Linked DNA regions of Homo sapiens. The protein of the gene in region 2 interacts with the protein of the main gene of each other region in a pairwise test. Each region holds a gene or a part of one and is shown on either strand. Other genes may lie near its edges. The genes, in order: MAP4K3, SH3RF1 and FGD1.

What was found.
Region 1: the proteins of SH3RF1 (region 2) and MAP4K3 interact in a two-hybrid assay, tested with the Homo sapiens proteins (one large-scale study listed by BioGRID and IntAct).
Region 3: the proteins of SH3RF1 (region 2) and FGD1 interact in a two-hybrid assay, tested with the Homo sapiens proteins (one large-scale study listed by BioGRID).

What each region holds. Positions count from the first base shown.
Region 1 is NC_000002.12:39,290,723-39,294,375, forward strand, and holds part of MAP4K3 (mitogen-activated protein kinase kinase kinase kinase 3), read right to left. Parts: intron 2,547-3,653; coding exon 2,508-2,546; intron 2,105-2,507; coding exon 2,051-2,104; intron 1-2,050. UniProt on the Homo sapiens protein: Serine/threonine kinase that plays a role in the response to environmental stress. Appears to act upstream of the JUN N-terminal pathway.
Region 2 is NC_000004.12:169,260,901-169,264,553, forward strand, and holds part of SH3RF1 (E3 ubiquitin-protein ligase SH3RF1), read right to left. Parts: intron 1-3,653. UniProt on the Homo sapiens protein: Has E3 ubiquitin-protein ligase activity. In the absence of an external substrate, it can catalyze self-ubiquitination. Stimulates ubiquitination of potassium channel KCNJ1, enhancing it's dynamin-dependent and clathrin-independent endocytosis.
Region 3 is NC_000023.11:54,468,707-54,472,359, forward strand, and holds part of FGD1 (FYVE, RhoGEF and PH domain-containing protein 1), read right to left. Parts: intron 2,782-3,653; coding exon 2,608-2,781; intron 2,055-2,607; coding exon 1,877-2,054; intron 1,752-1,876; coding exon 1,310-1,751; intron 171-1,309; coding exon 81-170; intron 1-80. UniProt on the Homo sapiens protein: Activates CDC42, a member of the Ras-like family of Rho- and Rac proteins, by exchanging bound GDP for free GTP. Plays a role in regulating the actin cytoskeleton and cell shape.

The DNA.
Region 1 (3,653 bases), on a different chromosome or scaffold from region 2:
ACTTACAGTATGTAAGTATTACTACTCTCTTATACCACTGTAGGATGACTATAGTTAACAATAACGGGCCGGGCGTGGTGGCTCACGCCTGTAATTCCAGCACTTTGGGAGGCCGAGGTGGGCAGATCACGAGGTCAGGAAATCAAGACCATCCTACCATCGTGGTTAACATGGTGAAACACCATCTCTACTAAAAATACAAAAAAATTAGCCAGGTGTGGTGGCGGGTGCCTGTAGTCCCAGCAGGAGAATGGCATGAACCTGGGAGGTAGAGCCTGCATGCAGAGAGCTGAGATCACACCACTGCACTCCAGCCTGGGTGACAGGGCAAGACTCTGTCTCAAAAAACAAAACAAAACAAAAAACCAATAATGTGTTATTTAGTTGCAAATAGTTAGAAGGAGGATATTGAATGTTCCAACACAAAGAAATGATAAATGTTTGAGATGATGGATATGCTAATTACCCTGATCAGATCACTACATTATATGTATCAAAACGTTACTATGTACCACAGAAATTTGTATTATAATTATTTCAGTTAAAAGAATTAAATTCAATTTAAAAAGAAGTAATTGGGTAATACACTTTCTTGGTTCCAAGTACTATATTGTAATTAAAACTGGGAAAGATAATTATAATTCCAGTTTATATCAACTGAAAGGTAAATAATTAAGAACATAAGCCACATCTGGCTTATGAAATAAATGATACAGTATAAAATATATCACATTGTAAACTTCATTTTTGCTACTGTTAGATATGAAACATCTTTGATGAAGCTCATCAAAAACTATATATATGCTTTATGAAATTATATGCAGAATGTGACTGAAGTTAGGATTCATTATAACTCAGGATCAGTTTTAGAAACAGAAAGAGGCTGGTCACAGTGGCTCATGCCTGTAATCCCAGCACTCTAGGAGGCTGAGGTGAGCAGATTGCTTGAGCTCAGGAGTTCGAGCCCAGCCTGGACAACATGGTGGAAACCCATCTCTACCAAAAAATAGAAAATTAGGAAGTGTGGAGGTGCAGTCCCAGCTACTCAGGAGGCTGAGGTGGGAGGACTGCTTGAGCCAGGAGGTCGAGGCTGCAGTGAGCCAAGATCACACCACTGCACTTCAGGTGGGCCACAGAGCAAGCAAGACCCTTTCTCAAAAGAAAGAAAGAAAAAATTGTAATATGATGAAGCACAAATGTCTCAGATGAGGATTTCAAGGCCTAGAAAGTTTATGTAACTTTACCCAAGATCAACCTATGCCCTCAACTGCTACTCAAGTGCTCTTATCATTTTACCATGAAACTGCATCTTTATTAAAAAAAAAAAAGTAAACATCAATGCATACATAATAGTAAAAATATTCCTCCTTTAAAACTATATATTTACATCCAAAGTATTTGTTCACTTGAAATATAACAGATTAAAATTTAATCAAATTTATAATAAGCTTCTTTGTAGTTGTAGTAAAATTACAGCAGCTATCAATCACTGATAAATCTACAATAAAAAATTATTGTCCTTTGGAAAAAATGGACTGAAATGTGTCACTATAAAATTCACATGTTGAAGTATTAACCCACAATGTGATTATATTTAGAGATGGGTTTTTAGGAAGTAATTAAGCTTAAATGAGGTTGTAACAGTGGGATCCTAATCCTATGGATTGGTGATCTTACGAGAGAGAGAGATCACTCTTACCCCTGATCCCACCATGTGCATACACTGAGGAAAGGCCACGTGAAGACATGGCCAGAAGACGGCTGTCTGCAAGCCAAGAAGGCAGCCCTCACCAAGTTGGTTGGTACCTTGATCTTGAACTTCCCACCTCCAGAACTGTGAGAAATAAATTTCTGTTGTCTAAGTCTATGGTATTTTGTTATGTCAGCCCAAGTTAATGTAACTAGAATAGAAAAAAGGAAGGAAACTGAGATACAACCCATGATATTGTGTTACTGATATTGAAATTTCCATCAATATTAAGCTGCCAGATTGATGAAATCAGGTCAAATGACACCTTTTCTTTTTACCAAAAACAGAGACAGAACTTACTGTTTAGATTCATCATCATCTCCTTCATCATCTTCTAAATGTGCGACGTGTCCTCTAAATAAAAAGGATAATGTCATTGTTATTAAATGGATTTTACCAAAACAGTAAGAAGAAATTTTAGAAAATGCAGGAAAAGCTACTGTAAGATAAAATTTTATTTCTGCATCTTTATAGGATAGGATAGATTCAGAATTAAAACAAGGAACTGGGAGCGGTGGATCGTGATGTCCGTTACTAGGGAGGATGAGGTGGAAAGATCGCTTGAGCCCAGGAGTTCAAGGCTGCAGTGAGCTATGATCATACCACTGCAATCCAGCCTGGGCAACAGAGCGAGACCCTATCTCTATTAAAGAAAAAAAAGACAACGCAAACAAATAGGCTACATAACAGAGAAGAAGGCAAACTGACTTTACTTGTCTGTGACATAAAGTACTTTAAGATTAAAAATTAAAATTACCGCTGATGCAATTCTTCTTCAACAGACTTGAGAAGACTCCTTAAAAGAAAAAACAAAAACAAAAAATAATGTGAATAAATTATCAAAGGAATATCGAATGTGTTTTTATCATTTTAACCTTAACCATACATTTTTTGAATGATTACTTTTTTACCATTTACTGAAAATTTGCTAGTGATCACCTCTGCAACCATAAAACATCAAGTTATATTTAATAAAATACCTCTATTTTCCTGTTGCCAATGTCTTTATATATGTATTTTAAATGAACAAAATAAATCCTAATATTTATTGAAAAATACCAATTCAAACAGAAGACAACTCACCATGGAATGTCACAACAGTACTGACAAAACAATAATTGCAGGGTCATAGCCAGGAGTCTCCAGGATTCAAATTTTACCTGGAATTTTATACCTGACACCTGAAATTATATATACTTTCTTTTTCTTAAAATAAGGAAGGTGACACACTTCAAAATAACATCATGCTCTCAGGCAATCCTACAAAATGAAACTCACCATGTTGGATCTCTCTGCAGAAGCATGCATGCATGTGATGTGAATACATGAATGTAGTAGCACTTTGCTTTCACGGAAGACACTCACTTACCTGAAGGATTTGTTCTCCAGTGGTGCACGGGCAAACACATTTACACTTTTGGGAGACTAAGCCTGTATCAGACCAGGTCGAGGATTTTACCATTAGGAGCAGTATACAAAACTTTAATTTTCAGGAATGTAAGAGAGAACTATGGCATTCCTGAAGTTCCCTTACTTCTTTTTACCGCAAGTTCATGCAGCATACCTCCTAAATTACACTCTTCGAGCATAAAGACTCGATAGACTTCTCAAAGCTAATAGGGGAGATAAATATAGTTACTAATATACTACTGGGATAAAAGAGAGTCAGCAAAAGTTTTACTCTCCCTAAAAGTTATCAGGTAGCACCTTTTAATTATTTTCCCTCCTAATACATATCAGGAAAAACTGCCCTTAAAATTACAAAACATAAAACTAGAGAAACTGAAAGGTATGGTTATCTACTGTAAGCAATTAACAGAATAGGTTTTAGGCATCAATATTTTAATTAGCCTAGATTAACAACAATTTAAATTTTAAAAAATGAAAAACTTATGACTCCAGA
Region 2 (3,653 bases):
GTAACTTTGGTTCTCATCATCCCAAATAGAAATGAAATTAAATATACAGCTAAGGATCCCTAGAGAGGTTGGTACTCCACTCACTTATTCACTCATTTATTCAACAAACCTCTTGTGAGTGTGTACTCTGTGCCAGACACTACAAAGGGCTCTGAAAAGTCAAAGATGGACCAAACTCAGCCCCCTCACCAGCCCCATTCCCACAACCACTCTGCATGGAGCTTAGGTCCCTATGGCTCCGCATCTTTGAGCTGAAGAAATGAAGCCCAGAGAAACCCCACAGCCAGCCCATGGCAGTGTTGGAACCAGAGGCCACAACTTCTGACCTCCAAACCACACTCTTCCCCATACATCAAGCTAAGGAGAGTCTGCTTTCCTGGTCCACTGTCATTGTAAAGGAGCTTTATTTGTCCTCTTTTTGTCAAAACAAAATAGGAAGCAAGGACAGTGAGGAAAGAATAACCTCTGCCAGCTGCAACTGAGAAAAGATTCCCCTGCTAAAAGCAACATGAGGTCCCAGGGAAAATGTTTGTCACTTAAGTCAACTGCAGGTAAGGGAAGGAAGCATTTGGGATCAGAAATTGGACAAGTTATTTAAAGTCTTTCAGCCACCCCTCCTACATCCATGAAATAAGAATAATAATGTATAGTGAGCCGTAAACACTCCAACTGCACTCCAACCTGGGCAGAAGTGAGACCATCTCAAAAAAAAAAAAAAGAATGCATAATAGCTTCTTATAGATCAATGTGAGTAGATACGGAAGCTATCCAAGTTTTATCATTAAATTAAAAACCACAAGTTGCAGAACTGCATATACAATGTGATTCCATTTCTATTCAATTTTTTGTCTGAAAGAAAACACAAAAAAACCTTGTGACAGTGGTTACCCCTAGAGATTAGGAACAAAGGAGTAGAGATATTGGAAGCCTTGATTTTCTCCTTTACATCATCTTCTACTATTACATTTCTTACCATAAGCATGTATTATTTTTAATTCTTAAAACAAAGAAAAATACTATGAGTATTTTTCTTACACTGAGTATTTTTTAAACAGAAAGAAAAATGCTATGAGAAAAATACTATGAAGAAAAATTCTATGAGTAAAAATACTATGAGAAAAATACTATGAAAAATTAAATGAATGGTACACATAATTAGTACACTTTTCTATGTGTATATTATACATCAATAAAGAGTTTTTTCAAAAACTGGAGTAGGTCTATGTGCTTAAACATGAAGAGATTTCATAGATATAGTAAATGAATTAGCAAATCATTGAATCTCCAGAGCATGAAATTCTAGTTCTGCAAAAAATCAAGAAACTATATGCATACACATATAAATGTATATGAAAAGATCTGCAAGTATATACACACTTAATAACATATTCTTCTATATGGTTGAATTTTTTTTTACAACCAGAATGCTTTTACATACATTTTGAAATCTACATTCTTTCTCATTTTAAAAATGATAACACTTAGGCTGGGTGCCGCAGCTCACGCCTGTAATCCCAGCACTTTGGGAGGCTAAGGTGGGTGGATCACTTGAGGTCAGGAGTTGGAGACCAGCCTGGCCAACATGGTGAAAACCCACCTCTACTAAAAGTACAAAAATTAGCCAGGCATGGCGGTAGGCGCCTGTAATCCCAGCTACTTGGGAGGCTGAGGTGGGAGAATCGCTTGAACCCAGGAGGCTGAGGTTGCAGTGAGCTGAGATCTCACCATCGCCCTCCAGCCTGGGTGACAGAGTGAGACTCTGTCTCAAAAAAATAAATAAATAAAATGATAACACTTGACCCCAGAAAGCTGTTGTGAGGTTTACATGATTATGGTTACATGACACTTTATGTGATATAAAAAAGAATCATTACTTTTTTAAAAAAATTATCAATTAGTATGCACCACAGACCCCCTTTCCCATACCTTCCTTCTACCCTGTTCAAGATCTCATCTCCGAGTCTCACCATCAAGCCTAGCTCAGGAATGAAGTAAAGGTCAGGGATGGGGCAGACATGAAGCCTGGAGTAAGGATCAAGGATGGATAAAATAAGAGGTCAAGCATGCAACAAACATGGTTTAGCCAAAACAAACAAACAAACAAAACCCACCTTTTCCGTTTTAATTCAATCATTCTGAAACACACAGAAACATTTCCCTCATCCAAACCACCACATTAAATGTCTTGCTTGGGTCCGGTATGAGTTAATACACATCCCCATCCCCATCTGTGCGAAGACAACAACTCCTTTGTCCGTCAGTGTTTGTAGTGAACCTTACACGCCAGGGGAGCATGTCCCAACCACTCTGGTCCACACTTGGTATTCTTTGACCATGCACTTAATCCAAGGACCACGAACTACAAAAAAGAACCCCATCATAGATAGAGACTTATTCTATATCTTATCCCACCCCCTGATGCTTCACTATCTGCTGCCTTACTTGTTGTTTCTTGTGTGTTACCTCCCCCAAATGTAAACTTTTTCAACAGAAACATGCATTAATGTCATCTTTGACCTAGTATAGATTATTGAACATAACTGGACCTGAAAGCTCTCTACAGGTGCTTGTTCATAGATGGATGTCAAAGATGTCCCACGGCACAGTTCACAGCTGGCAGTTGCTTTCCACACCAAACCTGGAGCAACTCAGTTGTCCTAACTTTCTCCCACTACTTCCTTCAATTCTTTCTGCCAATGCCATTCCTTGGAATAAAGCCTAGAATGCCTTACTAGGGTGCTACTTAGCCCTGGAAAGCACCAAGTAAGGATCTGTATCTGGTTTGTCCATCATTACCTATCCCTTGAGTAATGCCTTAGGTACTACTGAGTCCTGGAAAGCACTCTCTCCAGACTCCAGCTACAGATCAATCCAATTTGTCAGAGATAAGAAAGTAGTAGTTTTCCCCTCTCAATATTTCCTTCATTTCCTCCAGAACTTTCTGTGCATCTGGTATACTGTCACATAAACTTCAACTTCCTTATAACATGCCTGTCTATTTTAAGAAATTATGCCAGGCAATGTGGGTAGTTGAGGGAGTAGGGAGGGGCTGAACAACTTCTCAAAGGTATTCCATGACAGAACACAGAAGGCTGGACCACTGCCAGTTTCTGGGGAAACCAGGACTGAAGGGATTGGCAGTGGACCGAGAGGCCACTCAAGGGGCTGACCTTTAGGAGTATGTCTACAGTCAGAGTACAAGTTGGCTAGGGCTACTACATCCAAGGGCACAGACTGGGTGGCTTAAACAACAAAAATGTATTTCCTCACAGTTCTGGAGGCTGGAAGTCCAAGATCAAGGTGTCAGTGGGGTTGGCTTCCTTTGAAGGCAACTCTCCTTGGTTGGTAAGTGGCATCTTCTCCATGTGTCTTCACATGGTCTTCCCTATGTGTCTGCATCCTCATCTCCTCTTCTTATAAGAACACTGGTCTTACTGGATTAGGGCCCATGCATGTGACCTCATTTTACCTTAACCCCCTCTTTAAAGGTCCTATCCCCAAATATGGCCACATTGTGAGGTACTAGGAGTTAGAACTTCAACGTAGCAATGTTGGGGGACATAATTCAGCCCCTAACAGTCAGCAACAGGGAAAGAGGGAGAAAGGAGGTATGACTGTGCTATGGAGAAATGAAAGCAGACACAGCATTTACA
Region 3 (3,653 bases), on a different chromosome or scaffold from region 2:
TGAACTCAGGCCCTATCACTGCCTCCTTGAAACGCACCTACAAGGTCCTGGGGCCCTCGTACCCCCAAGGGGCCACTCACCTGATCCAGGAGATGGAGCCTGGAAACGTAGGCCTTCTCAGTTTGCAGGAGCTCATTGGCAATGTGAAACACCTTTTGCTGCACAGTCAACTGGAAAGGAGAAACAGTAACCCCTGATCCATCATCCTCTATCGTAACCCTCACCCAAGCCCCCAGAATTCTTAAAACAGTTCCCATGCCACTCTAAGCCTAATACCACCCTAGGATAACCTTGACCCCCATCTCTAGATCTGTAAGTCCTTCAGCTTCATCCCTGAGTCCCCAGTCTACCATAAAGCCTACCCCTCCATTCTGATGACGTGCACTCCCTCACTCAACAACTCATTCACCCGCTCTCTCTATTCACTCAGCAGAGTGTAGTGGTTAAGCATGTGGGATGGTAAGTCAGACTTCCTGGGTTCAAATCCTAAGCTCTGCCATTCACTAGCTTGTGTAAGTTCTTTAACAGCTCTGTATTTAGGACGCCTCATCCATAAATACAGATAATAATAGAATCTATTTAATGTAGAGGCTGGTGAGAAACAAAAACAAAACCAAAACAAAATAATAATAGGACTGAAGTCCATTGGTAATGGAGACAATTAGATAATTTAATATAAATAAAACACATCAGACTACAGATTAAATGGTATATAAATGTTAATTAATCATTTATTCACCCACTCAGTACACTATCAGCAAGGGCTTGCTGAGTACCTGGGGTGTGAGAAAAGCACAAAAGTATAAGAACGTATAAAACTCATTGCCTGTTGGCCTAGTTTCCTATTCCTTAGATATATGTGTTGACTACCTGCCATGCCGGCAGTCCCTGGCTTTGGCCCCTACACTTGAGCTTGGTCCTAGCAGAGCAAGTATTCCGGCTGAGATCTAACTCAAGTGCGATGGTGCCTTCTGAAGAAATGTTAGGCTGCCCGGGCACAGAAAGGGGTCTCTGCTGCCAAGAGCCTTCATCTGCACAGCCTCGGGCCCCTGCAGGGCTCTAGCTCTTGCGCCCCTCCTCCAGCTGTTGAGAAGTCTCTATGGATGTAAGTAAGAGACTTTCCGTATTACAAATAAGGAAACTGAGGCTTATGGTAGGGAAGCAGAAAGGGAAAAGACTTGCCCAGTGTCACAGAGCTTGGAAACAAGGTCCTATTTCGAGAAATACTGAGCTAGGGGAAGAATCAAGCACAAAAGGCGCTTCCAGGTTCTCCACATGGACCTGCCTCTCGGTGAACACAGGTCAGTACCTCCACAGACTCCTGTCTCTCCATCAGGGGCACTGGGATTTCTCTGTCCTTCTCTTCCTCCTCCTCCTCGTCGTCCTCCTCCTCCAGGTCACTGTCAACCTCTTGGGAGCCAGGCCGGTGGGGGTCGGCCAAGGCAACAGGCACACTAGCCAGGGCAGGGGGCCCAGGGCAGAGGCTGTGGCTGGGGGGCCCGTCATCACTGACGAAGCAGGTCTCCTCGCTGTTGGATGGCGAGCTGATGCTATCAATGCCGCTGTCCCGGTTGGGCACCTTCTCACCGTCCCGGGGCCCAGGAGCCAGCAGAAACAGGCAGCGGGAGGCCTCACCCTCGGGGAGCTGGGGCACTGGTGGCTGCGAGGTTGGCTGTGGCAACATGACTGGCTCTGGGGGACCTGGGCTGGGGCCAGGGACTGGTCTATCCGAGGCGACAATCACAGGCTCTCTGAGGTGGGTGGTGGACACACATGGAAGCAGGGTATGAGCTTGACTGAGAGGCCTCTCCTGACTATCCCTTCCTGTCCCAGGCTCCCCCTTTCCCCTAGAGGGTGCCCTAGGGACCAGACTCACCTTTCAAACTTCTCAATCAGTGAGGATACTGCTGCAGAACTGGGGCTGGCCTCTGCCCTGGGAGCCAGGCCCTTGGCCACTCGGGGGTCGGCAGGCAGTGGGCGTGATGGTGGAGGGGGGATGGGCTCCAGTGGGGGGGGCATCCGGGGCATCTGCAGGTAGCTGGGCTTTGGGGGCACTGGAGAGACGAATGGGGAAGAGAGAAGGGAGACATCAGTGAGCTGGATTTGAGCCTGGCTAACATGGTGAAACCCCATCTCTACTAAAAATACAAAAATTAGCTGGGCATGGTGGCACGTGCCTGTAGTCCCAGCTACTTGGGAGGCTGAGGCAGGATAATTGCTTGAACTCAGGAGGCGGAGGTTGCAGTGAGCCAAGATCATGTCACTGCACTCCAGCCTGGTGACAGAGTGAGATTCTGTCTCAAAAAAAAAAAAAAAAAAAGCTGGATTTGGAGGTGGCTGGCTGTCATGGCCAGGCCACAACCCCTTCCACAAACACCAATCTGCACCTTTGCCTGAGGTAGACACAAAGGGGCTAAGGTGAGATCACAGTATGCACACATTAGCCTCAGGCCACAGCACTCTGTGCACTAGGTAGGTAGCACTGCCCTGGGAGCATGGTGGCTCCCTATCCTTCTAACAAACCCTCTTCTCTGCCACTGGCTAACTTCTCCCCTCCTCTGTACCCTCCCCTGGGCCACTTCTCTGCTCTTTTCCAGGACCACTTACCCTGTGGCTTCGGGCCCGGTGCCCGCTTCAGTGGTGAAGGACGCTGGCTAGGGGTTTCAGTCGGGGGACCTGGGTCTGAGCGAAGCCGCTGGGGACCTTCTGGATGAGGCTCTAGGCTTTGGCCAGGGTCAAGGGACAAACTTTTAACCAGGATCCGGTTTCCCTGGTGCAGCCCTGCAGGAAGGGAGAAAATGGGTGTGAAGTAACTGACTTTAACCCAAAGGGGACTGGGGTTAAAGTTAGGACTGGCATGTCTTAGCAGCTATCTGGGGTATTGGGTTTCTCTGAGCCCCTTTCCTGGCCACAGTGTTTTTCTGGGAAGCCCCTATCCTAGCCCTCAGATGGAGAGCCAGACCCAGGGCTGGGGCTGGCTGTTTTCATCAATAGATAAGAATTCTTTGTGACTAGTGCATTGATTCCATGTATGTCAGCAGGCAGTATCACTAGGGAGTTTAACCAGGCTGGGGGTGGCTGTGAGCACCCTAAAGTTTATACATGCGTTTGCAGCCCTTGTTTCTACAGCCACATAGGTATGCTGAGTATAAACCATTCTTCAACGCTTTTGTTAAGGCCCTGAGAATATCTAGACTTTCTTGTTTACAATTTTGTGCAGCTAAGTGTGCTTAAAAATGATGAAATTGTGTTTCATGAGCAAGTTTTGCTTCTTGAAATCCCAACTTCTGGCTGGGCACAGTGGCTCATGCCTGTAATCCCAGCATTTTGGGAAGCTGAGAAGGGAGGATTGCTTGAGCTCAGGAATTTGAGATGAGTTTGGGCAACAAAGTGAGACCCTGTCTCTACAAAAAATATAAAAGTTAGCTGGGCAGTGTGGTGTGCACCTGTATTCCCAGATACTTGGGAGGCTGAGGTGGGAGGATCACTTGAGCCTGGGAGGTGGAGGTTGCAGGGAGCTGAGATCACCCCACTGCACTCCAGCCTGGACAAAAGAGCAAGACGCTGTCTCAAGAAAAAAAAAAAAAAGAAGAAAAATGAAAAAGAAAATCCCAACTTCTCAGCAATCTGTACTACCTTCCTCAACTTCCACA